Linked DNA regions of Homo sapiens: all the other regions are linked to region 3. Evidence: fine-mapped expression QTL. A gene starts in region 3. Each other region holds a variant in brackets. All regions are shown on one strand. Distances are between the middles of the regions. Region 1 overlaps THUMPD2 (THUMP domain 2 tRNA and snRNA guanosine methyltransferase). Region 2 overlaps THUMPD2 (THUMP domain 2 tRNA and snRNA guanosine methyltransferase). Region 3 holds the start of THUMPD2 (THUMP domain 2 tRNA and snRNA guanosine methyltransferase).

The links. PIP is the estimated chance that this variant, and not a neighbour inherited with it, causes the effect.
Region 1: its variant is the best candidate, but not a certain one, in a credible set for the expression of THUMPD2 in unexposed skin (GTEx, PIP 0.88).
Region 2: its variant is the best candidate, but not a certain one, in a credible set for the expression of THUMPD2 in tibial artery (GTEx, PIP 0.54).

Annotation. Positions count from the first base shown.
Region 1 is chr2:39,726,299-39,737,377 of GRCh38, forward strand. It overlaps THUMPD2 (THUMP domain 2 tRNA and snRNA guanosine methyltransferase), which reads right to left. Exons shown (of 10, transcript NM_025264.5): 10 at 9,763-10,761. The coding sequence ends at 10,437. It overlaps LOC124905994 (a long non-coding RNA gene), which reads left to right and starts at 10,697. Exons shown (of 3, transcript XR_007086294.1): 1 at 10,697-10,780. It also overlaps a transcript of TMEM178A not described here. The variant T/C (reference allele first, on the strand shown) is at 6,949.
Region 2 is chr2:39,738,014-39,749,092 of GRCh38, forward strand. THUMPD2 (THUMP domain 2 tRNA and snRNA guanosine methyltransferase) reads right to left here. Exons shown (of 10, transcript NM_025264.5): 9 at 6,357-6,465. LOC124905994 (a long non-coding RNA gene) reads left to right here. Exons shown (of 3, transcript XR_007086294.1): 2 at 2,884-2,976. Among named protein-coding and RNA genes, the nearest start is that of THUMPD2, 36 kb to the right of the region's middle. The variant T/G (reference allele first, on the strand shown) is at 5,230.
Region 3 is chr2:39,774,083-39,785,161 of GRCh38, forward strand. It overlaps THUMPD2 (THUMP domain 2 tRNA and snRNA guanosine methyltransferase), which reads right to left and starts at 5,176. Exons shown (of 10, transcript NM_025264.5): 1 at 5,032-5,176. The coding sequence starts at 5,157.

The sequences.
Region 1 (11,079 bases), 48 kb before region 3:
AGAGAGCCTGAGCAATGCAGGTGTCCTGAGGAATGTCCAGGAAGGGTAGATAGCAGGTGCAGAGGCCTGGGATGGGAACAAGCTTTGCATGTGGCAGGGTCAGCAAAAGGTAGAATGAAAGTGAGAGTGTTGAGATGAAGTAAGAGGGAAACCAGGCTATCCAGCACCCTTTGAACACCTTTCCAATAAAACCCAAGACTTCGGGTTTCATTCTGAGTAAGATGGAAAGTCATTGGAGGATTTCAAACATAAGAGTGATAAAATCTGGCTTACAGAAAAACAGGCAAAATACCTTTGGCCCAGTGAATGAATTGTCCTTGGTTTCCATGTTAATACCCAGAGGCCAGTACTGGGCGTTTAGGTCTATCTGGCAAAATATATGGTTAATGTGCCCATTCTTCCAAGGTGAAGTCAATCTCACAAAGTGTAGGATACCAAGGGCAAGAGTCACAAAAAGGCAGCTAGCAGGGTGACCAAAAAATGGTAGAAATAATGTGTAAGGGTTGGGGGTGGGTAAGGAAGGGCCCTGGAGTAATTGCTGTCATTTGTTTCATCTCGAGCAGGCAGTTTCTCACTGAAGAAACTTAATGAAAACTGACAATATTAAATGATTGTGGCATTCAGATGGCAAAATTACACTTCAAATCTCCTGACTCTCTTGAACATAATTCATGGAATTTAAGATAAAAAGCTGAGCTCTTCATGCACGTTTTGAGTTGTTTCTTTAAATTTCCAACAATCCATAATTTTTCTCTCAAATGTTTTCCTCGACTCAGCTCATTTTTCTCTCTGCCGAGGTGTTCCAGAGAGTGGTTTCATCCCTCCATTTCCAAAGGTCAAGGATATTCCTCTATCTCAGAAGCCCGGACTTCTGGCTGGTATCCTCTTGCTCCTGCTCACATCCCTTTCAGATAGCTGTCACAGCAGCCATTCAGGCAGGGCCAGTTTACCAAGGAGCATTCCCAGAACCTGACATGGAGCAAGTACTCACTAACTGCCTGGTAGCTAAGTAAATAAAGAAGCAAATGAACAAATGAATAAATAACAAGATTTGAAAAGGCTACTAACACTATGGCAAAATATGAACATGCACTAAAAAAACTCACCTGGATTTCTTAATTAGCAAGATTTCTCTAAGACTTTGCATCTCACCTAATTTTAGTCCAAGGGCTTTCTTGCATAGCTCTCTGAACCGACACATTTACTTAATATCTAAGTGAGCATTTCTTCTCAAACCTCAGTTTATTTTGAATCCCTGAGACTTAGCTTTTTTATTTTTTAATTATACTTTAAGTTCTAGGGTACATGTGCACAATGTGCAGGTTCGTTACGTAGGTATACATGTGCCATGTTGGTTTGCTGCACCCATCAACTCATCATTTGCATTAGGTAATTCTCCTAATGCTATCCCTCCCCCAGCCCCCCACCCCTCGACAGGCCCCGGTGTGTGATGTTCCCCACCCTGTGTCCAAGTGATCTAACTGTTCATTTCTCATCTCTGAGAACATGAGGTGTTTGGTTTTCTGTCCCTGTGACAGTTTGCTGAGAATGATGGTTTCCAGCTTCATCCATGTCCCTGCAAAGGACATGAACTCATCCTTTTTTATGGCAGCATAGTATTCCATGGTGTATATGTGCCACATTTTCTTAATCCAGTCTATCATTGATGGACATTTGGGTTGGTTCCAAGTCTTTGCTATTGTGAATAATGCCACAATAAACATATGTGTGCATGTGTCTTTATAGTAGCATGATTTATAATCCTTTGGGTATGTACCCAGTAATGGGATTGCTGGGTCAAATGGTAATTCTAGTTCTAGATCCTCCAGGAATCGCCACACTGACTTCCACAGTGGATGAACCAATTTACACTCCCACCAACAGTGTAAAAGCATTCCTATTTCTCCACATCCTCTCCAGAATCTGTTTCCTGACTTTTTAATGATTGCCATTCTAACTGGCGTGAGATGGTATCTCATTGTGGTTTTGATTTGCATTTCTCTGAGACTTAGCTTTCTAGGTTACACAGGAAGTCGGTGTCTCCCTGGACAGCTGTCTGCTTCTTGAATGGTTTCCGAGTGTCCCTTTGATTCACTGTTCTCAGATCTACAGGCATTTATTTATTCTCTCCTACCAGGAGCTAGTTCAATTTAGTTCAAAAAATATTAATTGTTCTTTTCTGGGCCACACTCTGTACCCTATTCTGGAGGAGGAAAAAATGCTATAAAATAGTACTCCATTTATTTGACATCCTCAAATTTTCATAAATTTTCAAAAACTTTATAGTTGTATGCATTTAATATTAAAGATATTTTAGCAGAGACTAAAATCATGATTTAATTCTGCAAAGTACACCGAGATCATTAGTACTGCTACCTCTTACGATCTACATCACTGTCACTCACTTCAAGTCAAGAAATGAATTTTTTTTTTTTAACCCATCGTTTGTTGCATTTTGGTCACAGAGTCCACCCCTACACGTTTTTTCTTTTCTCCTAAAGATGTATGTAAGGCTTAGGCAGATGATGACAAAGACTGTATTATTCAAAATCTTTGGGAGGCCAAAACATTAAAAATGATTTTGGAGAGGGGTGCCAAATACTGATAAAATAGACAACTAGAAAATATGGTAACAGAAAAAATGCAAAACATTTGGAGGGACTCCACTGAGAATGAGATGTGCAGAGCCTGCAGGGCAGGAGAGTGCTTCAGTAACCTTGGTGTGTGGCACAGCGCCCCCAGCTGCAATCAACAGAATAACTCTAGGTTGTTCGGCAGAAAAGGAATTCATTAAAAAAAAATTAGAATGCTCAATAGGGCCAGAAAATTAATCTAGGGGACTACACAACCAGGAACACCATCCAAACCATACAACAAGATGGTAGTTTCAAAGATTCACTGCCACCCCTGCCGGGGATCCACACCATAGCTTGCACCATGGATATTGAACGCTGAATGCTGTCCTCTACCCCAGCTAGCCCCTGAGGCCAGATGCTTCTGCTGCCTCTCCCCCAGAAAGTGGATTCCATGGTGCCTGGTTCCTCCGCATAGCTCACATCTGAATCCAATTATCATATGTCAGTGTCTGGCCCCCATTCTACCTATAATATAGGTCGGAAAAGCTGGTGTTCTGGTTTCTGCCTTGGAGAGGTGGGACTCAAACATTGGAAAATACGATAATTCACCACTTTGATGTACCCTTTGGATGCCCAACATCAATATCTGTTCTTAATTTGATATTTAAACTTCCTCCAACCAACCAATATTCGCATGTAAAATATGCAATTATACTTGACAGAAAAACCTGCTCATCCTCTCCCCTTCTGACAAGGGTAACACATCCATGTCAAGAACATGATTTCTGGGTGGCTTCCATTCCTCCTCTAGTTCCATCTGATATTCTGTAAGTTAGGGTTTAAACTATGCGATGGAAGTCTTAAATTGGGAGGGAGTTGAAAGTCATCCTACTCTTGACCAATGGGAGACAGGAGCTGGTGGATATTCTCCTCTTTTGCTCCTTAAGCAGACAATTCTGGGTTGCATCCTATACAGGTCTTCAGAGGGGCCCTACAGGATCAGATCCCAGCTTCTCACAGTGGTGATCAGCTCAACAGTGCATCCTTGGATTACCTTTTTCCCTATTTCTCTTTTACTCCTTCCAGTCCCCAGCTCCCAAAATAAATTATCTCCAAAAAAACCTTCGTCTCATCTCGGGTCTTGGTAAGAACCTAGGTTAACACTGGGTTCTAGACATACCTCTCTCTGATTACTAGGAACAAACACTCCAGCCCACATAATTCAACCTGTTTATGTGTTTCTGTCCAGTGGAATCAAGGACCCAAAATAATTGGGTGGCAGTCTTACCTCTTAATTCAATGGTTTCTTGTTGTGTTTGCTGACAGAAGAAATCCTCTCTTGGGAATGATTTTGAAAGGAGGAGGGTTTCCACGAATGACCCTGGGTGCTCAGAGTGGATTAAATGGACAATGAGCAGCTGGGAATTTGGGGGCACCTCTTTTCTCAGAAAAAGGGGCTGACTACATTCAAGCTCAGATTCCCATACAACTGGTGGTTTTCCCCTTGCCTCTCCCTGGCAGGGAGACTGTAACATATCATGTGTCCCCAAGATCACTAGGTCCGTCAAGTTTCCCACGTGCAGGGCAGCTGGCTTTCTAGACAATTCCTGTAAAGAGCTGACAGACCAAATCCAGACTGTCTGGCACCAAGAAGCTTATGCATTCCCCTAGTGAAAGCTCCTTTCTCATGGTTGCCCTGTAAGAAAGGAGACCCACAGGCTGGTGGCAGTATTGGTGGTGGTGGTGTGGTCGTTCGTTCTAACGTAACTGATCTTTCCATGAGATGGAGAGACCAATGGATGGTATGGAATATGTCTTGACTTTTTATGCAATAGCAGACAGCACTGAAGGTTTCCATCTGGAACAAGAGGCATTGAGACCTCTAAGCCAGGGAGCCCAGACACTCTAGTGATAAGATGCAAACATTTTAATAGCGTAATTAGGAGTGATATAGTAACAGGTACCACTCTCACTTTCAGCTCTTGGGCTCTTTATTCTGACTATGGGAGAAATAGCACCATCTATTGGCTGTTGGTTCATAGCACACAGAGTATCCTGTATGGAGACATCTCATCTTCTCAAGGAGTTATCTTCCTGCTGGCACAATAACTGGGTGTTCAGTAAGCCATTCCATCATGCCGTAAGGCCTTATGGTGAGACAAGAAATCCCATGAGCCTCAGTCTCTTGTCTCACTGTCATCCCTGTAAAATAAGCTCTTTAGTGAGAAGCACTGTTACATGGAAATGAATGATAGTGAATAAGGCAATTTGTTAAGTTCATGGAAGGTGTTGTTGGCATAAAGAATCCAAATACAGAGTAAATAGTTATTCCAGTGAGGACAAATTATTGCCCTCTTCACAAGGGGGAGGGTCTTCAATATAATTCCCCTCCTGTTTGTAGTTGTTTTAGTCCATTTAGTGTTGCTATAATAGAATACTTGAGACTGGGTAGTTGATAAAGAAAAGTTGTTTATTGAGCCCATGATTCTGCGGGCTGAGAAGTTCAAAAGCATAGTGCCACATCTGGTCAGTTTCTGGTGAGGGCCATGGGCTGGCTCAAAATATGGCAGAGAAGCAGAAAAGTGAGTGGGTAGGTACAAAGAGAGCAAGAGAATGTCTAGGAAGCAGAACTTCTTTTACAACAGCCAATCACTGGTAACTAATTTAGTCCTGGGAGAGTGAGAATGAACTAGCTCCCTCAAGAGGGCATTGATTCATTCATGAGGGATATCTACCGACATGACCCAAATACCCCTACTAGGTCCAACTTCCCCAAACCATCACGTTGGGAATCAAATTTCAATGTGAGCTTCCAGGAGGACAAACTCAAGCTACAGCAGTAGTGTTATATTAAGTCTCTCAGGGTTGGTCACTGCTGCTGGAAATTAGTCAGCAGTGGCAGTGGCCACATCTTGGCGAGAAGTCCTTGTTGGGCCAGTGCATTGTTTCTGTCTGTCTCTGCAACCATTGTCTATGGGGCCACTGAGCAAGCACCAGGATGGCTGGGGAAAGGGTAGGGCACTGGGCAGGCAATCTTCCAACTACATATTTAGAACCTCCTACACAGTATGGCCTCTTGAGACCATTCCAATAGGACAAAAATATTCACCTATATTGGGGTCTAGTATAACATGTCCATCCACATTCCTCTTCCCGAGACCTTATTTCATGTTCCTGACCATCCATCTAAACTGATACTCATGAGGATGACATGTTGAGGATCTGCCTCTCAGGCCATCTCTCCTTCCAGGAAAAGTGTATAATGTGGACTACTCCAAGTTCTGCTCCCTGGGAGGAGAACTTCCCCACTTTCTTTCCTGTCTTTCACCCTGAGTGGGGCTGCAATTAAATTCCCACAGGTGCCAGCAAAACTTGCAGAGTCATCTGTAAGCCATATTTGACTTCTTTTCTCCTTGGTGAACTGCTCACTGGAGACTCCTCATGAGACCATGGCTATGAGGGAGGGGTGAGTGTGGCAGGAAGCACACTGAGAGGAAAAAGCACTGACTGCCCCTGCAGCTCATGAGTGCCGTCAGCCATGTGGAACTCAATGCTGATATATACCGCTCCCATCTGATGAGGATGTGCTGCTGGGTTGGGTCCATGCGACTTTTGGCTTGGCGTGTCATTACTTCAAGATGGGCAGCTTAGGTCATATGGTCACCTAGTGTCCCATGGTCAAGCCCTCAGAAGCAAGCCCCAATAGCAAGTCAAGAGTTATTTCCAAAAGGAGAATAATTAACTTGCATAGGAGAGCTTGGCTTTGCTCCAAAAGCTAAGATGCTGCAGCTGTGCTTCCTCTACTGGGATTTGCTGCAGGCTTCACACACCCTCCAGGTCTGCCCCAGTTGCTCTGAGCACCATCAGATCTCCTGGGTCTCTAAGGGCATTAGGGAGCTGCTTACAGTAGGGCTGGTGCAAGTAGAGAGCCATCTCTTAGCCCAGGCCTCAATTAACAGTAAATGAGTCAGAGCAGCAAATCCAAAGCTCATGTAGGCTGCCTTCAGATGCCACAGAGTTCCATCAACATCCGTGCCTTTCTTAGTGTTGGCACTAACATCTGCAGCTCCTACAAATATATGGTATTGCCTTTGTTTATTTCGGTAAGAAGGGGAACCTAAGGAGTGTGACATCAGCCCTTCCAAAAATCTATACCCTTACTCCATGGATCAGAAAGCCATTATGGGTATTCTGCAATTGCTGAGGGTAGCTATTCCAGCTATAGACTCAGACACTGGGTAAGTTACCGGATGGTTTGTCACTGAGAAAGTTGAAGTAGTTGAAAGAGAATTTCCACAGTCTACCACCACCACATCCGCCCACCTTCCAGCATCTGCTCCCACTTATAATCTGTTCTCTTACAACACGTATT[T/C]CTGTAATAGGCATTAAATCGAATATTGCTAAGTAAGGAGATGACGTCACTCTCATGTGGAAATTGGGTTGGTTCATACATGATTTTTTCTTTTTAGCATATTAATGCTTTGTGTCACCAGACAGGAGCAGCTGAACGTGAAGGATGCCAATGGAATGAGTTGAACGAACAAGGTGCGGAATAAGGCTCTTTATATGACGTCCATCATCACAGGCTTTTTCTGGTTCATCTTGGCCGCAGGTTCTGCCTTGGCCAGGCAGACAGTGCCTGTTGTGTAACTCAGCATCTCCTTACCCTTCTTTATGCCTAGTCTATCAAGGTGACATTGCCCTTTTCTTGGAAAGGTGAAGTCCTTATTTACTTACATATTTATTAGGAATATAATGTCTTAACTGTGCCAATATTTTCACTAAGATTGGTGTTTCTGTTAGTGTTCAGGTTGCAAAATTGGATGTTTGCAATGGTTTTCCCCAACCAGAATTTATGTTTCTTTTTCATAAATTGTTATTTTTAGTGCATAAATTTGAGAATGAAAAAATTTTTAGGAGCATATTTATCATACTATAGCTGAAATGTCTGTATGCTGTCTTCCTACCCGTAATCGTGAACAAATTATCATGCTCCTGTCTAAAGCTAATTCCTCCAATTGTGGACTGCATTTTATCCCCTTATTCAAGGACGTCGCTCTAGCACTTAGCCCTTTTTTCCTATTTCATCATCTTTTCGTCTTTCCTGGAATTCTCTTTAACATAAAAAAAAAGCTGCTACTTCTCCCAACAAATCTTTCTCTTGCTTTCACACTCTTTACCAATCTACTACTCCTATTTCTTTGCTCACCTGTTCTGCAAAACTAGTTGTAAGAACTGTCTATGCTCACTATCTCCAGCTCTTTTCCTATTTTTTCTTAAGCTCACTGCAGTCTGGTTTTGCTCCCCTTCCATTCCACCAAAAGCCCCATGGTCAAGGTCATGAATGACTCCCTCACTGCTAAAGCCAATGGTCAATTTCCAGTTATCTTACTTGGTCAGTTAGCAGCATTTATAGGGTTAAATACTCCTCCTCTATACCCTTTATTCATGTCTTCCAGGCAACCACACTAGGTTTTCTTTCTATTTCACTGGTTGTTCCATCTCAGTTTTCTTTGGAGTTTCCTCTTCTCCTGCCAACCTCTCAGTATGGGAGGAATTCAGGGCTCAGCCCTGGTCTTATTCTCCTATTCCCAATCCTTTGGTGATCCCATCCAGTTTCATGCCACCTAAATACTGAAAATTCCCATAATGTATCTCCAGAGCAGACCTTTTTCTTAAAGTGCAGACTCACATATTCAATTGCCTAATCAACATCTCCACTTTGTTTAATGCATATTTCAAAATTAGCAAGTCTAAAACTGTCTAGCAAGCAAGTCTAAACAAGATCTGCTAGTTTAGACTGTCTAGACTAGTCTAAATTAGAGTGTCTAGACTAGCAAGTCCAAAACAGAATTTCTGATATTTCTCACCAAACCTGCAGCCTCTGCAGCCTTTCCTCTCTTAGTTGATGAAAACTCTACTGTTCCAAGTTCTTGGCTAAAAGTCTTCAGTCATTCCTGTCTCCTCTCCATTTATCATACCTCACATCTAACACATCAGTACATCCTTCTGGTTCTACTTTCGAAATACATCCAGAATCCATGTGCCTCCTACCAACACGACTGTTACCACCCTGGGGCAAGCTACCATTTTCTTTTGCCTGAATCATTGCAAAAAACTCCCAGCTGATCTCTTTACTTTCACCCTTCTCTTCCTACAATCAATTTGCAATATAGCAGCTACAGTATCCTAAAACATATGTTAGGTGACATCACCTATTCAAAACTCTTTCAGTGGTTTTGAGTAAAAGCTAAAGCCCTTAAAATAGTCTTCAAGGCCCCATCTCATCTAATATACCACCTCTACCTGCCACCCATTACCTTGTTAACCTAATCTCTCATCCTTTATCCGCAGTATCCACTATATGCCAGGAGTATCTCTCTCCTCCTTCAAGTTGTGGTAATCAAAAATGTCTGCAGACATTGCCATATGTCTTCTGAGGACCAAAAATTGCCGCTGGCTGAGACCCCTGCTTTAACCCAAGGAATAAGGACTACAGAAATCTTGCTTTTTCTTTGAGTTGTCAAGTTCTACCAAAAGCAGATAGCCCGCCTCATAGGGCTCGTATTCCTCAGGTTTTTGGTGTTTCCCAGAGCATCAGGTAAGCACAGGCATTATGAACTGCTTCACCATCACATGCCATACACTTTCTATAACACTAGCTGTATTCTCACTGCCTTTAACCCAAGTAGGCCAGATACCGAGTAACGAATTCACATTACTGGGGGCCTCTTGCTTGAAACCCCTCAGAGTATCAGTCTCCATTATCAGAGTCCCAGCTGTTAACAACACAACCACATTTACTTAGTTTTAGCAAAAATGAAATGTATTCAAGATTAGTAGGTGGCTCTTAGAATTTCCTAGGAAGGCCAGAGAGAGAAGCTTAGCGGTGGCTACGTAGCCAAGAGCAGTGCTGAAACCTCAGGAGAGGAATGTTCTGGTGAAGATCGCTTTGTGTTGCCACTGGGCACAAATGCCATAGCTTGCACATGGGTGGACCTGATACCAGGGGCCCAGGTTTCCACACCCTGGCTGGAAAACAGATTTTATGACTTCTGCTTTGGGGAGCTGATTCACAGGGTGGAAAATTACCCAAACATAGCAAAGTTGTTCAAATACCACTAAAGCTGCCAATAAGTTGAACAATTGTATCACACTATTGAAAAACATTAAACCAGAGCATATATTCTCCTCAAACTTACTGTTTCTTTTTCTCAGGTAGTGAACATAAGCAACAAACTGACTTTCTATATAAATAAGGGCGAGGTGACAGTGTATGAATGCTTTTAGAAAAAAAGCAAATTTCATTTTCCATCATGTTTTGAAGGATACTGGCTTAATTCAGTTATTATTCTCACTGTTGGTTTACATAATAAACATATAAAATGTATTGCAAATACAAATTATTTTCATTCCAATGGAGAAGAAAATTACAGGCTCAAAAATCAAGTTTAATATCAAAAGAAGTTACACATAAAGGTTTTTACATTTCCGAAAATCTGATAGTTAAAATATCCCGTCTGGTGTTGATTGTGATACACTTAAGTGAACCCCTGAAAACCTTTATTTTGAAATTGAAGTTTTTGCTCAGAAACTGGGCAGAACTTTTCACATTCTGACAGAAGATAAAACTTAAGTCTAAAAAATATTCGATAACTTTTTTCTCAAAAACATTAAGTACTTTAGAATATAAAGCAGAAACTCTTACCAAGCATGTGTACCCATCAGCCACACCTCCTGTCTTTGGGGGAATTTGGTTACTTGGAGCTCTGTGGGTGCTATATGAATCCTAGAGACAGCAAACTTCTGCTGTACAGCTAACTTACAAGGGCCTGAACCCGGCTGATGGCAGCAAGCCTGCTACAGTCCAGAAGAGTGCGACTTCTTATATTTACATATGAACGCATCTGTCTTTCCAAGGCTAACTTTGTAGCATTCCACTGGTACCAAGGAGCCAAATGGTGACATTCTGTCTAAGAATTTGTGGTTACTGGCTTCGAATGAAGTTGACGCTGTCTTGAATGCACCAGTTTTTTCTTCAGGATTCAAGCACTTTTTAATTCCAGGTTCATCTGTGTGACTGTCCTTGGAATTGAAAGGGATGTTGCTCTCTTTACAATCTGTAAGGCGCCTGTGGTGATCTTCACTAAGCAACAATACAATGGTTCCGCCAACATGAAGCACTCTGTGACAAAAAAAAAATGGTAATTGCTATCTTTCTCCTTTCTAGACAACAAACAATCCCACTTCATTTAAAATGGTTCATGTTTTTAATTTGAAATTTAATTTTATCCATTTAAATATAAGGATTTTTGATAATTAGGTAGTATCTTCTATAATGTATATTCATTATAGTAATTATGAAATCCCTAGTACAAATCTGCTTTAATTATCTATTTTTACTCAAAAGGCAAGCCTCAAAGTAATTTGTAGTCACGGTCTAATAAATGATTGTATAAAGGAAAAGGCAAATGACAGAATCCTAAAGACTGCATGTATTAAA
Region 2 (11,079 bases), 36 kb before region 3:
GGAGTAATGGAAAAGACCAGGCCTTGAGGTAAAGATACAGTAAATGGTAGCTAAAGCCATAATGGTGGATGGGATCACCTGGGGTGGCAGTACAGGTTGAGAAGAGAAAATGGGACAGGGAGCAGAGATTTCACATTTAAAAAGTGACGGAGGAGAAGACCCATGAAGTAGACATCCTCAGAGAAAATCTGGACAACAGTTATGTCAAGGAAGCCAAAGAAGTACAGTTTCAAGAAAGAAACAGTTTCAACAGTGTCAAATGCTATAGGGCCGGCATGGTGGCTCACACCTGTAATCCCAACATTTTGGGAGGCTCAGGTGGGAGGATCGCTTGAGCACAGGAGTTTGAGACCAGCCTGGGCAACATGGCAAAACATGTCTCTACCAAAAAAATACAAAAATCAGCCAGGTGTGGTGGCGTGTGCCTGTAATCCCAGGTACTTGGGAGGCTGGGATGGGAGGACTGCTTGAGCCCAGGGGGCAGAGGTTGCAGTGAGCTGAGATTGCACCACTGCACTCTAGTCTGGGCAACAGAGAGAGACCCTGTCTTTAAAATAAAATTATTTTTTACACACATACATATGTAAAAATATATATATAATATATATTATATATTTACATATAAATACATAATTTATATACATATAAATTATATGTATATATACACATATATACATATATAAATTATATATATATGTAAAATAACAAATGCTATAGGACTAACAGGTGATCAGGATTATGAGAAATCAGTGAACCCAGGGACAGCAATCCTAGCTGAAGGCAGGAGCAGATGCTCGTCTGCCAGGGTAGAGTGGGGCTGGAAACTGAGGAAGCAGAGGTGTCAAGTGTAGGCCATTATTTCAAGAAGTTCAGCTGTACAGGAAAAGAAACAGTGGCAGCTAAAGGACCAAGAGTTAAGGGGAATCTGCCTCATGCCCAGCAAAAATCTAAGAAGCTTAGGTAGCTTTCCCTAGTCTAATCCATCAGCAAAGCTAGACAATTCTGTCTCTAAATTGTATCACATATTTGTCTACTTCATTCATAGTTTGCCTGGACCACAGCAACAATCTGGTAGACAGGTCTTGTTTCCATTCTTGTCGCCCCTCCCACTCTGTCTTCCGTTTCCACACAGAAGACAAATGTAAATTCTTTGCTAACTCCTCAGTTGCTTGCACTGTACTTCAAATACATTCTAACCCCCTTACTCTGGCATCCAAGGCTCCTACACAATCTGACCCTTACCTACCTTTTTGATGTCACTGCCTGCTTTCTTTGCTTACTGACCTTCCTTCAGCTGCTCAAACTCACCAAGCTGCTTCTCACCTTAGGACATTTGGAATTGCTGTTCACCCTGCGTTTATCACTCATTCTTATCACTCACGCCCCACAGTCAAATATCACTTTCCCAGAGAGGCCTTTCCTGACTACCTAGCTAGGGTAGCCACTACTTTTCTCTCACTCTAAAGCAAAACATTTTGTTTTATGTCCATCACAGTACCAGTCATGATCTGACATTATCCAGTTTGTTTACTGATTAACCATCTGTCTTCTCACAATGAATGGTCAGAGACCTTGCCTGTCGTATTCACTGCTGTAATCCCCGGGGCCAAGTACATGCAAGTGCATGGGAGATGCAAAGACTTCCAAACGTGTCTGGGGAAGGGATAAATGAATCTCCTGGAAAGAACCGGCAGATGAGTAGGCAGAAGATAAAAATGAGAAGTGGGCAGAGTGTGATCCTTGAGGAGGAAGGAACTGAGAGGATAAACCCTTGCAGGAAGAGGGAAGCCTCTTCTACTGAGCAAGGAAGAAGTGGATGGGAAAATGAGTACTCTTGAAGACAGAAACTGAAGTAACTTTTTGGGGCAACAGTTTAGCAATCATGTATCAAAAATATGAAATGTACATAACCTTTGACCCAGCAATCTCACTTCTAGGAAATTATCCTAAGAAGATGTAATAGTAGTAGTAGTAGAATAACAGTGATAATAATGGTGATATAGCTAATATTTATTGAGTACTTAATATGTGCCAGGCAGTTGGATATGCTCTGTATTATGTATCATTTAAACTTCAGAATTATCTTTCTAAGTATGCTCTATAACACTGTCATTTTGCAGATGAAGAAACTGTGATACTGTGACTGTGGTGCTTGGTCATATAGTTAAGTTTGAAAAACCATGCAAGGATGTTCAAAGAATAGTTCTTTTTTAAAATAAAAAATTGGGGATTATCTAAATATTCATCCATAAGCACTGGTTGCATAATGGTACATACATATAATGTGGCAACCACTGAAAATTATAATGTATATTGTAACAACTGATCAGAAAGGAGATTCATGACATTGTTGAGTAGAAAAAAAGCAATGCTACAGTACATTAAGGACAATCCTATTTATGTAGAGTAGTAAACATGTATCCTTTTGTGCATATGTACATGACAAGATGCCTAACAGGACAGTCACCATTTATTGTAATTTTGTTCAAATAATGGAGAGAAAGTGAAAATCACCTGAAATCCTGCTACTCTGAGATGAACATTTTCCATAAATGTCCTTCTAGGCATCTTTCCATGATCATACGCACATAATTTCTTTTCTTTTCTTTTTTTTTATTTTTTTAGAGATGGGGTCACTCCGTCACCTGGGCAGCTTGATCATACCTCAAGCTACTGGTGTCACCTAGTTCATATACACATAATTTCTTTTCTTTTCTTTTTAGAGATGGGGTCTCATTCTGTCACCCAGGTAGCTTGATCGCAGCCCACTGCAGCCTCCAACTCCTGGGCTCAAGCGATCCTCCTACTTTAGCCTTCCAAGTAGTGGGACTGAAGGTGCATGCCACCACACCTGGCTAATTTTTAAATTTTTTATTTATTTAGAGATGAGTTCTTGCTATGTTGTCCGGGCTAGTCTTGAATTCCTGGCCTCAAGTGATCCTTCCACCCCAGCATCTTGAGTTGCTGAGACTACAGGTATGAGCTACTGTGCCCAGAAACACATAATTTCTTACTATGAAAGCTATTCAGAATTATAAAGCAATGTTTACCAAATTGTATTCCTTTGAACACTAGTGTATCAGTGATGATAATAATAAGAATACAATATTACTATTTCTTAAGAAAAAACTCTGCAGTCAGTAAGTTGGGGGAAGTCTGTATCAAACAGCATAAGAGATTTCCCTTTCGTATGTGAACCTGAAAAACTAGGAGTAGATGGTACAAATAATCTTAAATTATTTGTCCATGGAACACATTAAGTCTTAACCACCTACTATAAATCCTTTGCTCCAGGCAGTCTGGTATACTCATTGTTCCATGAACACACCTCCTGCTGTACTGCTCACTCAAGAAATACTTAATAAACATCTGTACATATAAACATGATGTGGTCTCCTTTTCAATTCTGTCTTCACTTCCAAATTTCACTGAAATCTGGCTTCTTCCTGAAACCATCTCAAGCCTCTTTGGCACACAATGCCTTCTTCCTTCAAGCGGTGCAAGGTGAATTTTTAATTTTGCTCATGTATTTGCACAGTTACATTTGAGGAGAAAACTCAAATGTACTTCTCTGAATTCCTGACAATGCTCTGTACCCATAATCCTTTAATACATTAAAGGAGGAAATAATTGAGCTGAGAATGCATAGCTCATGCCACCAGAGTAATCATTTATCTGACAATCTTTAATTCTGATTGCATGTCCTTTCTCGAAGAGTCCAGCTCTGTAGTACATACAGTACTATTTCCACTGCCTGTTATGAACAGGTTTGTTGTATTTTCATGAACACAATTTCCTATCCCTTCCATTTTCTATCTAGGGCCTTAAACTATCAGTAAACCATTGGGATAAAAATTATGTGTACTCCGATATATTTAAATATATCCTCACACACTTCCCAAAAGGATTTTCAGTGGTATACACTAAAAAATCAGGTAAGTGATAACAGATACTGAGTAAGTTCTAGGTGGCCAGCACTGTTGTAAGAGCTTTAAATCCACTGACTCAGAACAATGCCATTAAGTGGGTATTAAAGATAGGCAAGTGGTTAAGCAATATGCCTGTGACTGAAGAACTATTAAGTAATAGAGCCAAGAGTGGAACTCAGGTAGTCTGTCTCCAAAGCCTATACTTCACCACTATATTATGCCACACTGCCTGTATAAAACTTCAAACCATAAAAAAAACAAAAACAAAAGTCAGACATAAAGGTTGGGGACAGGTGGCAAGGAAGCTTGGTCACAGAAGGAAAAGTCCCTTATATCCAAATACATACACTTTAAACTGGTCCCACTGAGGCACTTTAGTTTTGCAGGAAGTCAGGAATATGCATTTTCCTGATTCTTAAGTATTTAAATATCACAATGTGACAATGTGAGGGCTGTCACATCTATTACTGTCTCATTTTCAATCAATCACCTGGAATAAAAACCAAACCCATCCTAGAGAAAGTCAGGCTGGTATAATTTACTAGGCTGAAAGAACTGTCTACTCATAATACTGCCCTCCACTGACTTGTAGAGGTGCTATAATATGCAGCATTAGATTTTCAGTTAGAGTAAGCCACCATCTCTCTGGAAGCTTCTAGGTTAAATGTAAATCGTTGCTCACACATTAGTATCTCACCATGAATTGGTTAAAGGTATAGATGCAGATTATCTAGTTAGGTTCAAAGACTGCAGTCATTAACTCTGGCTGCACTACAGCATCACCTTGGGAGTGTTTAAGAACTACCAATGCTTGAGTCCTCCACCAGATAAATTAAGTTAGCGCCTTCGTGGGGAGGGGTGGATAGCAGGGATCAGTATTTTTTAAAAGCTCCTGAAATGATTTTTATATGAAGTCAGGGTTGCCAAATCTGCTCAAGGTGAATGTGATATTGGGCAGCAGGGAGTACAGGTGCTCATGAAATGTCTGAATTATAGGTGCTGTCCAGAAGGAGAGGTCTCAGGTAATATTTCAAGAGTTAGGCAACTGGGTAGCAGGGAAAGTTGCTTAGAAATAAGATAATCCCTAAAGAAGCATGGGACACTCAGCTCCCAAAATGCAGTGAGATGACTTTTAGTTGAGCTTAGACTAAGTGTCAAGATTTAATTTTCCTTATAGAATGTTAGACTTGACCCTGATTTTTCTCCATCTAAAACACATGGCTCATATTTTAAATTGGTGACCCATTATTTACATAGCAGGCTCTTGAAATGTGTGTTATCAAATTCCCAGCTAGACAAT[T/G]TAGTATCAACTGACCTCTTATATTCATGTCCATTCATAACTGTATGCATTCTATGTTCTCTTCTTCACCAATTTAAACCATTAGAAAAATGCATATCCATGACTCATTGTTTCAATCTCTCAAAGGAATGCTTCCACTGAATTATATTCCCTTAGGTCATTAGAAACCATAAGATGAATACTTTCACATTTTCATTTCAGAGCTGCTATAGTTTGGATGTTTGTCCCCCTATACCTCATGTTGAAATTTGATCCCCAGTGTTGGAGATGGGGCCTAATGGGAAGTATTTGGATTATGTGGGTAGATATCTCATGAATAGATTAATGCCCTCCCTGTGAGGGGTGATAATTGAGTTCTCACTCTATTAGTTCCAGGGAAAGCTGGTTGTTAAAAAGAGCCTGGCACCTCCCCCTTCTCCCTCTTGCTTCCTCTCCTGCCATGTGATCTCTGCACACCGGGCTTGCCTTCTGCCATGACTAGAAGCAGCCTGGGGCCCTCATCACAAACTGAGCAGATAGATGCTGGCACTGTGCTTCTTTTACAGACTGCAGAATCATGAGCCAAGTAAACCTCTTTTCTTTACAAATTCTCTAGCCTCCAGTATTCCTTCATAGCAACAGAAAATGGACAAAGACAACAATAAATAATAAGGTGTTGCCCATTCTATGTTATGGAAGGTTCCTTATTTAACAGAATTCTGTTCTGTTGTTTAGTAGCAGAGTGATCATAAGAAAGTTAATCTTTCTGTGCCCCAGATTCTCATCTGTTAAGTGTGGGGGATTAACACAGAGAAGGCAGGTTTTTTTTTTTTTTTGTGAGGGATGGAAGCAAATATGTAAAATTTTGCTTCAGACCACTGACTGAAATATAGGTCACTATTTCATACATTCAAATCTCAGTACATAATAGAAAATTAATATTTTTCTGAATAAAATTTATAGTGTAAGATGATATGGATAACATTTATTTCAATTATAAACTTCTGACTTAAAACCTTAGAAAATTAAGCTACAAAAACTCTGGGAAATTGCTAAAAAGCAATCAGACCTTAACTGAAGAGCTATGATGTATTTCGGTTAAATGCCCAGTAGCTAAAAAAATTATGAAAATAAATTCAACAACTTACCTTTCCATTTCTTGTAGAATGCTTTTGATGTCTTTTCCTAACTTAAACTTTTTCCCAAATGGAATGTCAGAAATAATAATATCAACACTTTCTGAAGGCAATGGCAATTCTGAAATATAGAAATCAGAGAATCCTATTACAGTAGGGTCAAATATTTACAACTTAAATAATGAGAAAATTGAAGTACACAGGATTATTTTTGCGTAACAGATTAACATTTAGGGTTGCTAATATTGTTTTAAAGTAATTACAAGATCCCAAAATGCTTTCACAATCACTAATGATAAATGATAGTTATTGTATTCTGTTCGTTGAAAATTGGTTTTTCAGATACAATAAAATGTAAGTTAAGCAGAATTTTACATTAGCCAGAAAACTCAATTCTCTAAATATATAGCTTGTATAGAAAGCTGCTAGCTCCACTAAATTGCCTAGAAAAATCTTCCACAAAATTATATTCTACAACTTTCATTTCCCATTTTAAAACTGTACGTTTAGATCTACTTGTTTTTGAGGGAGAGGATCCATAGCTATCATTGTATTTTTAAAAGAGAATTTGGAAGGTTAAGAATATCTATTAAGTCCTAAGACTAGAGAAAAGGCTACATAATCAATAATCAACACAATGATTATCACTAAAAATTATTGTGTCTGATTAATTCTAAATTGCTTTATCTTAATGTTTTCTTCTCAGAAGTTACGTTATCAGAAAGTAACACAGTACACTCTACCCTAACATCCACATCTTCTAGATGTACTTTCCACTTTTTACTTATTTTACTTCTCATCCATCTCCTAAATTCAGTTAAATACTCATAAGACAGATGTCCCAATTTTCATTTTGAATAGTACCTAATTTTGCAGAAATGTAATGAAATTTAAATAATCTTCACTAAATATCAAAAGTTTCTGTTGGTAGGAAATTTAGCAACAAAAAGTGCTTTGTAATCTCGGAAAGTCTAATGACTACTTGCTAGATCTCTCCTAGTTCTAACCCTTATGTGGGGTTAATAGAAGAAGAGTAGATTGTTCGAAAAAAAGAAGGATAATATTCTTTTAAGCTGAGACAGGAATTCCTTTTTTCCAAGTTATGTTTTAACCTCATGGTTTTAGGGTGTTGATATAGTACACATCCATTTACAAAATGACTAAAGACAATAAATAGACAACGAAGGCAACCATAGTTCTCAAATGTTTTATTTATGAGGAAGCATGTAGTAATTTACTTTTGAATTTAATCCCAAGTCTTTCTTTTGCCTCACACTACACACACAGTACCTACGTATGAGTTAGCTGCCCATTATGTCCAGGTTTAGAAACAATGATTTTTTTCTTCTGGGTCTCCATTTTTATTGGGAACTTTGCTGCTCTATATTATATAATATGCTAAAGTGCTTTAAATAAATTTAGAAGTTGAATACATAAACTTCATATAGATGGAAGAGAATAATTTTTAAAAAAAATCTCCAGAACTAAGCAGTGTCATCTTCCAATAGAGCATAAAATAATCAAAGCTTTTCTTGATGTGGTTGAGAGCATAAGCTCTGGAGTCAGACAGCTTGCATTTGGCTCTGCTGCTCACTAACTGTGGGACTTTGGGAAATTACTGCTTCAGTTTCTTCATCTGTAAAATGGAATAAGATTATGTACCTCAGAAGTCAATAAAAGAGGTTAATATATGGAAGACATTTAGAACACGGCCTGGCACAAAGTGAGCATTCAGTAACCGTTAGCTGCTTTGTGGTCATTATTTATAATGTCCCTCTCTGATGTAAATGGGAGATGACAGCCAGGTGGAAACCAGTGCGCCATCCTTCAAAAAAGCTTTGCAGAACACAGTAGTATCCCCTTCTCCCTCATTCTTGGGCATCCAAGGTTGAGGTAGGGCAACTACTTCCAGGTGGGCCTCTCTCCTGCTCTCCTTTCCTCTAGCAGTGGTTCTCAAAGTGTGGTCCCCATAGCAGTAGCATCAGTATCATCTGGAAACTACAACTTAGTGCGTATTAGAATCAACTGAAAGGTCTTTGTAAAACAGATTGTTGTCCCCATCTCCGTAGGTTTAGATGCAGGTACTCCTAGAACCATGAGCACCTGACCGATACGATTCAACATACAGTAAAATCTTTTAAATTATTAGATGCTTTAAATACTGCTTGTGAACAAAAAATTTGCTTGTAACTAATCAGCTAAGATTCTGAAATAGAAACATAGCTCAAAACAAGTAAAAATCATCTTTTTACATCTCTGCAGGATGATTCAAGAACATGAAAAAAAAATTTAGTTTTAAAATACCAGTTGTTTTGAAGAAAAAAACTGCCCTATTTTTCCTACTTCCAGGAGAAAAATGGGTAAAAATTTCCTAAAACTCAGGACTATGGCCCCAAGATACTTTCTTCCAAAGGGATTTATGGGCCTTCAAGATGTCTTTTCATGCATATATTTAAACTAAAGACCAGGTTCATTGAGCACTTTTATAAAACTGAACATATCCTTCTTCCTATTTTTGTTCCTTGTTCTTTCTGTTTATTGTCCAGGTTTATAATATTCATATTCTGTCTCCTAACAGTAATTCCCATAATTGTTTAAACTTAGTTCTACAGTTAAATTAATTTCATCCTTATCACTAATCATTTTGCCTTGATTTTCTCCATTTCTCAGCCAATTAATCTCTTAATGCCTGGATTAAATACTTTTCCCCAAAGGACTTAGTGTGAAATGTTGTCGGAACTTTTTCATATTTCAAAATGTTTGTCCTTAAGATGATGTTTTGGTTAGGCATAATATTTTTGGGTTACACTTTGCTTTGGTAACTTTGTAAATAGCATCTCAGAACCTTGTAAATAACCACTATTCTATTTTCAAATGCTCTATAACATTTTATTGTGGCCAAAATATATTTTGAGGTTTATTGCATTAGATTATGACCTTCTCTCGTTTGGTTGCTGAATTTGTTTTCTTTGATGATTACTATTCTTTTTCTCATTTCAGTAAGTACAAGAGGGCGTAAAGCTTTCAATGAAATTTTGATCTGTCATCTTAATCAAGAAGTCCATAAACATTAGTCTTAAACACGCAAAATGTAGTCTGACATCTGGATTGGGTCACCATACAGTTTATAGTCCAAATGAACATTTCTGAGAAGAGAATGCTAGAAATAACTATGCTCTTTATTTTATATGAAAATTATATGCTTTGAAATATTTGAAATATTTATTATCCAATAAATTGGTTTATTATGGTGGCCCTGAAAACGTATCTGTGCAAAATGAAATTTTTAAGTTTAATAAAAGACTTTTTTTTGAGAAAAAATAATTTGCCTACAGTGCTAATATCTGAACAAGTTCTAGTAAATGAAATATACTTTCAGTTCTATTTTTTCATATGGAAAGGGTAAATATTTCAGCCTTCCAGTTCACAGTCCCTCCATTGACAGTGCCTTTGACAAATATGTTTACAAAACTCAAATTATCTCTATTATTCTTTTAATTGTTTTACCAAATTTAGATGATACAAAATTAAGGCCTTCACAATTTCATTCCATTCCATTCTAGACTACAAATTTATCCAATTACAATAAGGAAAGTCATCAGGAGATTCTTTCCATACCATATCCAAAGAATATTTATAGAATTTCATAATTAAGTCTTGTGCATTGTTGAGCTTTCAATATTTGTTCATTTCTTCGTGTTTTTAGGGAAAGATGATCAATGTCTTCCTGCTGCCAGCTTTAACAACTGTAATTCACCAAAAAATTCAAAAGCTAATGTATTTTGGCACTTCATTTGTTGAATCCTTTGATTATAGATTTCCAGTATATTCTGAATAAAATGCCATCAAAATTAGGCAACTTTTTTTTGGTAAAGTTTATAGCACCACCCTAGGACACTTTGGCTGATTTACAGAGTAATTCTTTGAAGGCTTACACTTTAAAACCCAACTGATGGACAAGCAAAGAAAGTGTACTGTTATGCAGAAGCATTTTTTTTGCATTCAGTCATCTTCAACACAAATAGTTTGCAGTTCATCTGTTCTGTGTATATTTTAAAAAGAAGGCCGGGTACGGTGGTTCACGCCTGTAATCCCAGCACTTTGGGAGGCCAAGGCAGGTGGATCATGAGGTCAAGAGATTGAGACCATCCTGGCCAACATGGTGAAACCCCATACAAAAATTAGCTGGGCGTGGTAGCATGCGCCTGTAGTCCCAGCTACTCAGGAGGCTGAAGCGGGAGAATTGCTTGAACCCAGGAGGCGGAGGTTGCAGTGAGCCGAAATTGCGCCACTGCACTCCAGCCTGGCGACAGAGTGAGAGTCTGTCTCAAAAAAAAACAAAAAAAGTGGCCAGGTATGGGGTGGCTCACACCTGTAATCCCAGCACTCCGGGAGGCTGAGCTGGGAGGATCATTTAAGACCAACCTGGGCAATACAGTGAGACCCCATCTCTATTTTTTTAAAAAAGAAAATTAGCCAGGCATGGTGGTGAGTACCTCCTACAGTCCTAGCTACTTGGGAAGCTGAGATGGGAGGACTGCTTGAGCCCAGGAGTTCGTTCAAGGCTGCAGTAAGCTATTATCAGACCACTACACTCTAGCCTGGGTGACAGAGCAAGTCTCTCTCTTAAAAAAAAAAACAAAACAAAATTCAATTATTTTGACAAGTGTCTGTTTCAATGGACACTACAGCCTGTTTGGAGGTAATTATGAATTATATGGGTATAACATTAAAT
Region 3 (11,079 bases):
GTGGTCCCAGTGCAAGTAAATGTGGGTGTGTGTGAGTGTGCCAGGCAATGGGATGGCATCCTATGCAGGGCTAGTTCCCGCCTTGTGCCCTGAGCTGCCAAGATAGGATCTGGCCAGTGAAAACCCTGGAATAACTTAACTGGAACAGTTGGATAAATAATTATCTTACTTGTTTTTATCAATCTTTCTTAAATGTATGTATAGATTACATTTATTTCAATGTTTAACATTAGAAGTGTTATTTCAGCGTTTACTATCAGAAGTGTTCTAAATAACCTATTTAGAAGTTTGTGAAATTTTTGTGACCAGAAATATGCTATAGGAACTCTTGTTTATTTCAATTAGCCTATGGTAAAAATGATTTAATTATACATCCTTTTGCTTGAAGTCACAGTTTCCAGGAACCTACGGATGACATTAAATGAGGACTTACTGTAGTTTAATAGATTGTAAAATAGTACTCACTGTGAGAATCAAATAATCCTATCTGTGAATGCACTTAAACAGTTCACTCTTTGTGAAGATAGGTATGATACCTTAAAATAGTAGGGAGAATGAATTTTGGTGCTTATGACTTCAAAAACTGCTGAAGCTACTAATTCTCTTTTTCTTTACTGCTTGTAACTGTTCATATTTAATACAACACTCAGAGAAATAAGGCATTTGGAATATTTCATTCTCATGTTTCTTACCTGAAAATTTATTTATATATACAATCTGTTTTTTTCTATCTAGAATGAAATCATAACCAAGTATCTAAAAACAGCTGGTTTTATGTATAACACTCCCGAAGATGAAGTAACAGCCTTGATTAATAACAGCTCTATTATCTGCTAGCATATCTAAACAGCATTTTTCCTTTCTTTTAAAATTCATGGATTCAAATTTAACACAAAGATTAAAAGTTCAAATCTAGGCTGAATGTGGTAGCTCATGCCTATAATTCCAGTGCTTTGGGAGGCCAAAGCGGGAGGACTGCTTGAGCCCAGGAGTTTGAGATCAGCCTGGACAACATGGTGAGACCCTGTTGGTACAAAAAGTAAATGAGCTGGGCACAGTGGCATATGCCTGTAGTCCAAGAGGCTACTCAGAAGGGTAAGGTGGGAGGATTGCTTGAGCCGGGGAAATCAAGGTTGCAGTGATCTGTGATCACGCCACTGTTCCCTAGCCTGAGTGACAGAGCCTGATCCTGTCACGATTTTTTTAAAAAGTTTAAATCTATGCAAAAACACATCATGATATAGGGAGGTACCAAAGGTCTCCTAATTCTACAGATGCCATTTAGTTACAGAATTAATTTGAAAGTGCTACGTGATGGGTTAAGGTGTTGTTTGAGTTTGTTTTGGTTTATTTTAGAAGAAGGAATTCAAAAATATGTTTCACTTAATTTGTAAAAAGGGCATTCAGCTGGGCATGGTGGCTCATGCCTGTAATCCCAGCACTTTGAGAGGCCAAGGCGGGTGGATCACTTGAAATCAGGAGTTCAAGACCAGCCTGGCCAACATGTTTAGCAGAAACCCTGTCTGTACTATAGATACAAAAATTAGCTGGGCACCTGTAATCCCAGCTACTTGGGAGGCTGAGGCAGGAGAATCGCTTGAACCCAGGAGGCGGAGGTTGCAGTGAGCCAAGATTGCGCCACTGCACTCCAGCCTGGGCGACAGAGTAACACTATGTCAAAAAAAAAAAAAAAAAAAAAAAAAAGAGGCATTCAATCTAAAGGGAATGCAGAAAATCTTTAAGGCAACCTTATGCAATTATTCCATTAAATGAAAATAACTATGGAATAACTTGACTTCCTGCTTAATTCTACCCTATTACCCTCGACTGTGATGCCACCATTAAAAAACAAAAATTTATGTGGCCTATTCAGGACCTGTGTTAATAGTGTTTGATATGTGAGTTTATAAAGATCAATGAATCAACTGACAGGACTCTTCTGGTGAACTGACATTAGAGATATCTCTACAACATTCAATTTTATCTTAAAATAACTGATCCTACTACTAGTCTTACAATAAATAGCAGTACTTAATAATACATTAAACATCATTATGAAGTAAAGCTTAATTTTTCTCAATATATTACTTTCTTCAAAGTAGTCTAAGTGATATGTGTTTGTAGATATGTAAATTAAATATTTAACATCATCCAGGGACTTATGAAGAAATTTGCCATACAACGAGAGGGGAGAAAAAACATCAAACCTGAATCTGACCAAGTTCTAGATAAAACTTACAGAATTCCAACTTACAGGAAATACAGAGGATAGAGGAACATGTTAAACTACACCATAGAGACTCAGTATACTATTTTTTTTTTTTTTTTTGAGATGGAGTCTCACTCTGTCACCCAGGCTGGAGTGCAGTGGCGCGATCTTGGCTCACTGCAACCTCCGCCTCCAAGGTTCAAGCAATTCTCGTGCCTCAGCCTCCCGAACAGCCGGGACTACAGGTGTACGCCACCACACCTGGATTTTTGTATTTTTAGTAGAGACGGGGTTTCACCATGTTGTCCAGGCTGGTCTCGAACTCCTGACCTCAGGTAATCTGCCCGGCTTGGCCTCCCAAAGTGCTGGGATTACAGGCATGAGCCACTATACCAGGCTGGATTCGGCATACTATTTTGTTTACTTTTGTATATTTTTGAAATTCTCCATGATAAAAAGCTAAAAAGAATACACAGGAAATTTTCCACTGCAAACTGTGTGTTGGGAGTTCTCTGAGAGGGGAGCATGTTTTCATGTTAAAATGGTAGCACCTGGGCTTATCAGCCACCCTACTAAAAGAAAACCTTTTGGGGCTGGCACCCAGAAATACTCATTTTCAACAAGCTTCCTCAGTGATTCTTATGTTCATGAAAATTGGAAAAACACATTAAAATGAAGTGATTACTTTCTTAAACAATCATTCTTGAATTAATCTGTTTTGTAAATTTACATTTTAGAGTGTTAATTTCCTTGATGCGATCCAAAGTTTCTAACACTCTCTTATCATTGAAAGAATGTTTTAAGTATTCCTGTACAACTCATTGTATGGGAACTAAAATTGAGCACCAACTATTTGTTAGGCAGCATGCTACCTGTGCTATCTTTATTTCAGGGACTGCAGTAATCCTTTAAAGTAGCTATCATCTCTATTTTACATCCAAGAAAATTGAGGCTCAGAAATTTGAGTAATTTGCCCAAAGTTACAAATCCACTAAAGGAATATATAAGATCTGCACACAGGTCTTTTGATTCTAAAGACCATACGTACTCTACCGTGGTGTTACAGAAATAAACTACATCCAATGTTCCAGGGAAGATTCCCATGGTAATTTAGCCTAGTGGTAAAGCACATGGGCTTTAAAGCTAGAGAGACTCAGAGACAAGTCCCAATTTTCTCTTTTTTTGGTAAAATATGGAGGTAAAAGTCTATCAGATAGGAGTCTTTTGAGGATTAAATCATAACATGCACATAACTTGTCTAACATTTTAAGTGTTTAATAAATGTTAGTTGTCATCACTGTTATTTCAGGATTGCCTTAACTTTGAGAGTTCACTTTGTATCAGAGCAACTTGGGTGGAATTTCAGAGATTATTTGTTCAGATCCCATTTCCAGACCTATCTATCTTTCAAACATACAAGAGCAGAATATGGAAATTCCCAAATCTACTGGCATTTAATTACTCCCACTGTCAAAAAGTTTTCCCTGTATTTAATTGAATTTTCTTCCTGGTAATAAAGTTTTCCCCATTTCATTTGTCTTTAGAGAAGATGGAGAACAAGCAGAGAGTCTTTCCTTTTTCTAATAATCCTACATATTAATTGGGCCAAGCTCTCTCTCTCTTTCATACCAAGCACTCTAAGTTAGCATTTAAAAAAACAAGCCAGCGCACCCCTATGTCATGGTCATATAGTGGGCCTGGTTTGAACATGATTATATACTCATTCTTGATTTCCCAGCTCGGGTTTGAATCCCATCTTTGCGATTTTCTAGTTGCATGACTTGAATAAATTCTCGGACTTACCTGTGCTTCATTTTTCTCATCTGTTAAATGTGGAACACCTACCTTATAGGGCTGTTGTGAAAAGTACGCAAATAAATATAGGGTAAAGATCTAAGAACATGTGCCTGACACATATTAAATGTTCAATAAATGTCAGTAGTTATTATATATTGATGCTTTTTAAGATTAGCTACATTCAATACTCTATTAAATTCTGTGACCCAAAACACAAGTGGCAGGTAGTCTAACAAAACTGACATAATTCTTCACGACTCCAACCTTTCACTGCAGAAACTCCTTTTGTGGGCTTCCCACACTGTAGGAGCTGCCAGGGTGGAGGGGTTAATTTCATTTAGGAAGCTCTCCTTTTCCAAGAGTACATCACTCACAGTGTCCCATACACCCCATCAAGATACCTTTTCTATTATACCTTCATCCCCTACTTTCAAGAAACCAGTTTTCAACATTCTAAAACCTAAACCGATGCTTAAAACCTTGTTCATTTCACAGAAATCAATAACAGATAACTATGAGGCCTGCAAGAGTATATTATTTTTCTGGCTGCTATTTACTGCGTGTTTAAAGTGTACTTTGCATACGCTATATAATTTAATTCTCACAACAATCCTATGTAGTCAAATACAATCACTGTCAAGAAACTAACAAAAAGTCAGGTAACTGAACTTGGAGATTATGTTTGCATTTAAAGAGCGAAGGGTTCTAACTCTGACAGGCCAGATTCTAATTACAGGCACTACTTACTACTTTAAAGAATCCAGGAAATAACTTGCCTCAACACCTCTCTTAAAAACTTGAGCCCTGAGAAGTGAGGAACTGGATTTGCTATACAAGGAAAGAAAGGAATGGTGGCTTCTCTCGGCCGGAGCGGAAGCGCCTGCCAGTCAACCTCGGGGGTCGGCGACCGTCGCGTGGAACAGAGAGGGGCGCCAGCGACGCTTTCCCGCGTCCACGACTGGGGTGGGCAACAGGGCAGGGACAGGGCCGCCCACCTCCCCAGGCGCGCAGCGAGGCCAACTCACCTGCGTGGCCGCCAGCCGCGCCCGCACCTCTCGCATTACGAACGGCTCCAGGCCGCGACCCGCAGTGCAGAAGAATCGGGCGCCAGCCTCAGGCCCGGACCCTGGCTCTCCACGCGCCTCCGACATGGCGGCTCAGGCGCGCCCTCGCGCCTTCGGGTCACGTGGCCTCGGGCGCGAGCGGCTCGCTCCTGGAGGCGGCGCGCAGGGGCGTGTGATGCCAAAGGGGAGAGGGAGAGGGAGAGGGAGAGGGGGAGGGGGAGAGGGAGGGGGAAGGAGAGGGTGAGAGAGACGGAGAGCCTGGGAGGGTCGCATCAGCCCTCTGTGGCCCCTATGGGTCTTCCTGGTTGACCATCTGTCCCCTCCTTGATTAGGCACCAGAATGGGTTAGAATCACAGGTGGAAGGGTTAGAATTGATAATTCAGTCCAGTTGCCTTATTTTGTAGATTGAGGAAATTAATGCCCAGAGAGGTCAAGAGACAGCGAGTTAGCAGCACAGCTGAGGCTGGAGCCTAGATTTCTCCCTATCTAACATAATGCCTTTTCCTCCATTCCTCCCAACTCCGTCCTCTTCCTGTCCTTCATTCCTCTCCTCTACTCTTCTCATAGAAGGAGCCCTGGTCTGTTTTCACAAAGAATCGGGCCAAACGTTGGAATCTCCAGGACGGAGAGCAGAAGTTCCTGTTCTCTAACAAACGTCTGCGTTCTGAAACAGCTCATATTTCTTGCACTACTTAGTTAACCATCCAGCCATAGATGAATCAATGTGCCATCTAGTTTTGGGCACCTGATTTGAATGGTTCTCCTAACGGTATTTGAAGGCATTTTTCTAAACTCTGAATTTTAAAATGGAAATGAAAATATTACTTGGGAAGCATAGACAGAATCCATGTTACAAGATAAACAGCGTGAAATTAGCTCTGTAGCTGTATATTGAGTCAGTTATACAGAAATGATAAATGCATGTGTGTCTCTGACAAGGGGCTGTCCTGTGCTTCAGAATGGGATGTTAAGGTGAAGAACTGATACTCCCTCACCTCCCCCGACACTCCCACACACACCCCCGCCCCCACCCAGCTCATGCTCTACTGGGCCGTACAGTAAAAATTCTTCATGGAGTCACATAACATGAGCTTTTCCAAGGTTCAGTCCTAAGACTCTTCTGATGCTGCTTTTTATTTTTTATTTTTTGCGACAGGGTCTCCCTCTGTCGCCCAGGCTGGAGCGCAGTGACGTGATCTTGGCTCACTGCAGCCTCCACCTCCTGAGCTCCAGTAATCCTCCCACCTCAGCCTGTCCAGTAGCTGGGACCACAGGCAAGCCCCACCACACCGGGCTAATTTTTGTATTTTTTGTAGAGAAGGGGTTTCACCATGTTGGCCAGGCTGGTCTCGAACTCCTGAGATCAAGCGATCCGCCTGCCTCGGCCTCCCAAAGTGCTGGGATTACAGGCACCCAGCCCTCACACACTACCGTTTTGATGAATTCTTTTCTTGCCCTCAGACACATGTTTTCCTTTTCTGGGCTACTGCCGTAGTTCATTTTAACTTCTCTATACTTTGGGGTTCTGACTGTCAAGTCTGTCTGGGGAGGACAGGAACCCTCTTTAGTTCTCTCTACATTCTGTGCCCAAGATGTTAAGTATGCAGATAGGATGCATTCCATTCAGTTCAACAAATACTGAACACCTATTCTCCGCCAGTCACCACCCTGTCTTGAGGATTCAAAGATGGGTAAGCAAGGGTTTGGACTTCAAGGGCTTAGAGGATGGTGAAGTTGAATGACTCACTGAGGACATACCCGGGAAGCTATGACAGCACCGACAAAAAGGAGGCAGGGAGGGCTTCCTGGACAAAATCGCTCTTGAGTCCAGCATGAAGGATGTGTAAGAGGGAGAAGCAGCAGATGAAAATGAGACGGCGTGTGGGGGGTGGGGAACAGGAAAGCCACGATAGCGGTTAAGTGTTATTAGAGCATAAAGTATATGAGTGGAGTAGATAGAGATGCGGTAGAGCGGTGGGTAGGGGCCCAGTTATGTCAGTACAACCAAAGGCAGCTGAAAAAATGAAATGACCTATTCAGTCCAGCACCGACCAGCAGTGTGCTGGCCTGGGTGAAACCACAGCTGAGCTGAGGCTGCAGTTTTGCAGAGCCAATCGATCTTCCCCTTACTTTCTCCTCTTTCTTCTGATGTCTTTTCCCCTCCAGGAGCCTTTGGTCAGCAAGGTCGGGGCTACTCTTGTTTCATATGTGGGAGTCATGTGCATTTGTTCCTTTTGAACTGTGCTGCAGTATGTCAGCTGTACCAATGCCCTTCACAAAATGCTTGCAGTGCGATGGAATGGGGGAGTTCTGCCTCTTTAGGGAGAAATTAGTTTCGTTTTCTGGTAAGAGAGTTGCCTGGAATTCTCTCCCCCATTACTCAGGTACTCTTTTCTCCATCATCTCTTCTTCTTTAAAAAAGTCTCTTCTGAAAACTATGGATCCCTATAGACAAATTTAGCATATCCAGCTGCAATTTACTGTTCGAATATTACATATTTCAACATGTAGGAAATTGGAAGTCGGCAGGAACAATTTTAGAATGGACAGACTTTTAAGTGGAGGTGTTTTAAGAATTTAGGACAAGAATATTTGCTTTGAGATAGCTCCCTATTTTGGTGCCACTGGCAATTCTTTTAGTTCTTAAAGGTGTATGATGTATATACTTATATATTAAAATGCAAGTGCTATAGATTGTGAAATCCTTGAGGATGGGATGACTTCATCTGGGCATCTGTAGCGAGAACACTGGCTTGCCTGTGGTGGCCTCTCAAATGTATGCCAATAAAAAGTAACTAAATGAAAGGGCAACTAAGGAGGCCCCTCTCAGGAGAATTGCTGTAACTGCCCTATCAGCAGGGGCCTTTGCAAGCAGGATACAGGAATAAGGGCAATGTAGTGAGGCCAATGAAGTAGAGAAGTGAGAGCACAAAGGGGATAGGAGTACCTCCAAAATAAACTTCTTCACAACTTTCCTTTCTAGTTCCTCTCTTCCTCACTATCTCTTCTTCCTCCCTATACACTTTATAAATAATGTTTCTTACCCAGGAATACTCCTCAGAATTACCTGAGAAGTCACCAGTGTCAAGCTTGCCACCCCACTCTCCTGTATTCCAGTACAGTTGAGTAGGGTTGGTGACAAGCCTTGGCCTCTTCTCTCCATGAGATGAAGAACCGTTGCTAGATGCCAAGCAATTCAAGTGCTAACGTCTTCAAAATGCCCACTACTTCCCTTCTCCCAGGCCTCTGCTTATATGGTTCCCTTTGGCTAGAGCGCTCTTCTCTTCCTTTCTTTCTTTTTCTTTGAGGATAAGCTAGAATGCCACATCTTCTCTGGTGTACTTTCCTGCCTTTCTTGTACCCTTTTATGCAATATTTTATACCTTTATCATTCATTTATTCATTCATAAATATTTGTTGAGTTTGTGGCAAATGTGCCAGTTAAATGTTCCAGCCTTTGAGAAACTTTTAAATCAATGGGAGGTAATGGTGACAGGGCTGAATTGCTGAGATGGGCATATAAAGGATGACAATACAGTGTCATATATGGGAATAAAATGAAAGCAACTGGGCCCAGCAACGGTAGCCACTTAATGAAGTTGAATGAATGAGCTTATTCTGAAGCTGAGTAAGCCTTTGTCATGGTTTTGGTTTCTTATCTCCCTTTGAGCACCATATTAGCCCATTCTTGTACTGCTATAAAGAAATGCCTGAGACTGGGTAATCTATAAAGAAAAGAGTTTTAATTGGCCCACTGTTCCGCAGGCTCAACAGGAAGCATGGCTAGGGAGGCCTCAGGAAACTTACATTCATGGGGACAGGGGAAGCAGGCTTCTCTTAGATGGCTGGAGCAGGAGGAAGAGAGAGGATGGGGAGGTGCTGCACACTTTTAAGTAACCAGATCTCATCTCACTCACTGTCGTGAGACCAGCAAGGGGGAACTCCGCCCCCATGATTCAATCACCTCCCACCAGGCCCGTCCTCCAACACTGGGGATTACAATTCGATATGAGATTTGGGCAGGGACACAAATCCAAACCATATCTCTGCCAAGTCTGGGGCATCATCCTTCTGATGGGCCCCACCCACCTCCACAGGTGGAGCCTTTTTGCTAACCAGGGCATAGTCATGTGATCTAGACATTACCAGTGAGCCTCACGTGACTCAGAAATGAGCAATGTGGGGGAAAAGGCTCTTTCCACAATTCATTTTACTTCCTGGGGTATTGTTGGGGTGTCTGACCTTCAGGAACAGCTTCATGAACAGGATTGAGTTCCTGAGGCAGAAGTGGAACTGCTGGGGGTGGTGGTAGTAGTGGCAGCAGTTAGTTTTCTGGTCAGGCCAGTTTCTGAAAGCTTAGCTTCCAGATTGGTTTTCCAGACTGCCCAACAAATGAGTCATACACACACACACACACACACACACACACACACACACACATACACACACACACACACGCACGCTTTACTTTGCTTAATCAGTTAAAGTTAGCATCTATTTCTTGCAACAAGGAATCTTGATTGATACAGGCATCCACTCTTCCCAGGTAGGAGCAGCTAGCTTGGTTTGCTTCTCTCCCTGTGATTTGTATTAGCTTGGTCTCTTCCCCCATTCATTTGTGAGCATTGCACTGTGGAGGTATGATGAACTCCTGCCACGTAGCCCCACAGAGTAACTTGGAAAGAGTAGGATTTTATAAATTTTATGGAATTCAATTGTGTTATGGTATTGTGGTAAAACCACAGATACAGACACATGAATCTGTCAGACAGACACATTCCAACCAAGTCAGTATAGATTGTGAAAAAGAGAATCTACATATTTTTACGACTGCAAGTGCAAGCCATTTGGGAAAAAACTATTGGTCACATACTGATCCTTTAAACCACTTAAGTACACACAATAATCATCTTGAATGGTGCTTCTTTGAACATACAATCAAAAGGAGAAAATTCAGCAGAACATTTCATGGTATATGTAAATACTGTCTTTAAAACAGTATTTGCTAATTAGTGTTTATAGCACTAGTTTAAATGTAGAATCAAAATTCAAAAGATACAATCTTTATGCTCTGATCTGGAGAGATAATTCTTTTTTTATATGTTATTTTTGCTTCAGATCTATAGTGCATGAAATTACTTTGATATACAAGTATAGTTGACTATTTCCAATGTCTTTTCTGAAAAGTGTGGCATGTATTTAATGCATATTTCAAGACATGAGGCTGTTTGATGTGATTTTGTTTAAATATATTTTGAGCTCATAAAACTCAAAATATAGACCTAATGATGCCCCAGTTGGAAGAGAGTATGGATATTATTTCTTGGATATATATGTTGAATGAATGAATGACTATATCTGCAATTTTCTTCAATTTACTTGAATCAACTGTAGTGACTAAATAAAGCCATTTTCTTTTTGCAGTTATGTTCACCTCCCTCAGACTATTGTTTTAATATTCCTTTTCTCTTGTTGCATTCATGATAATATTGACTATGAATTATTATTTTCCTTAGAGGTTTGCTATTACCTAACTTTTTCTATTTCTTGGTACAAAGAAAGCCCCAGAAATGTCCAACATTAGCTAGGATACCTATGTTTTGATATTTATCCTTTTCATTTTCCTGTATGTCTTATTCCATTTTAGTAGATGGTCATTTATTTTGTGTATTTTCTTAGTGGTAACTGAAAAAAATAATTCCCTCAAAACTCAAGCAGATGTGATCTGCAAATAAAAACAACAAAGGGTTAGCTTTTATTTTCTCAAAAACACAAATAGAGTACCTTACTTCATTATGAATGGTATTTGGCAGAATAAAATCTGAAGAGTTTATTAGAACATTGGCTTTATTCAGTCAGTATTGCTCCTGTCGTTGGCATGAAGGAAGAGTAGACTATGGAACAAGCAGACTTACTTATTACATATTTGTCTTTTTATATTTTTCTTTTTGTTGAAGAGTGATAATTACTTGCTGCCCATGGATATCTTGCATGATTTTGAAAAATGG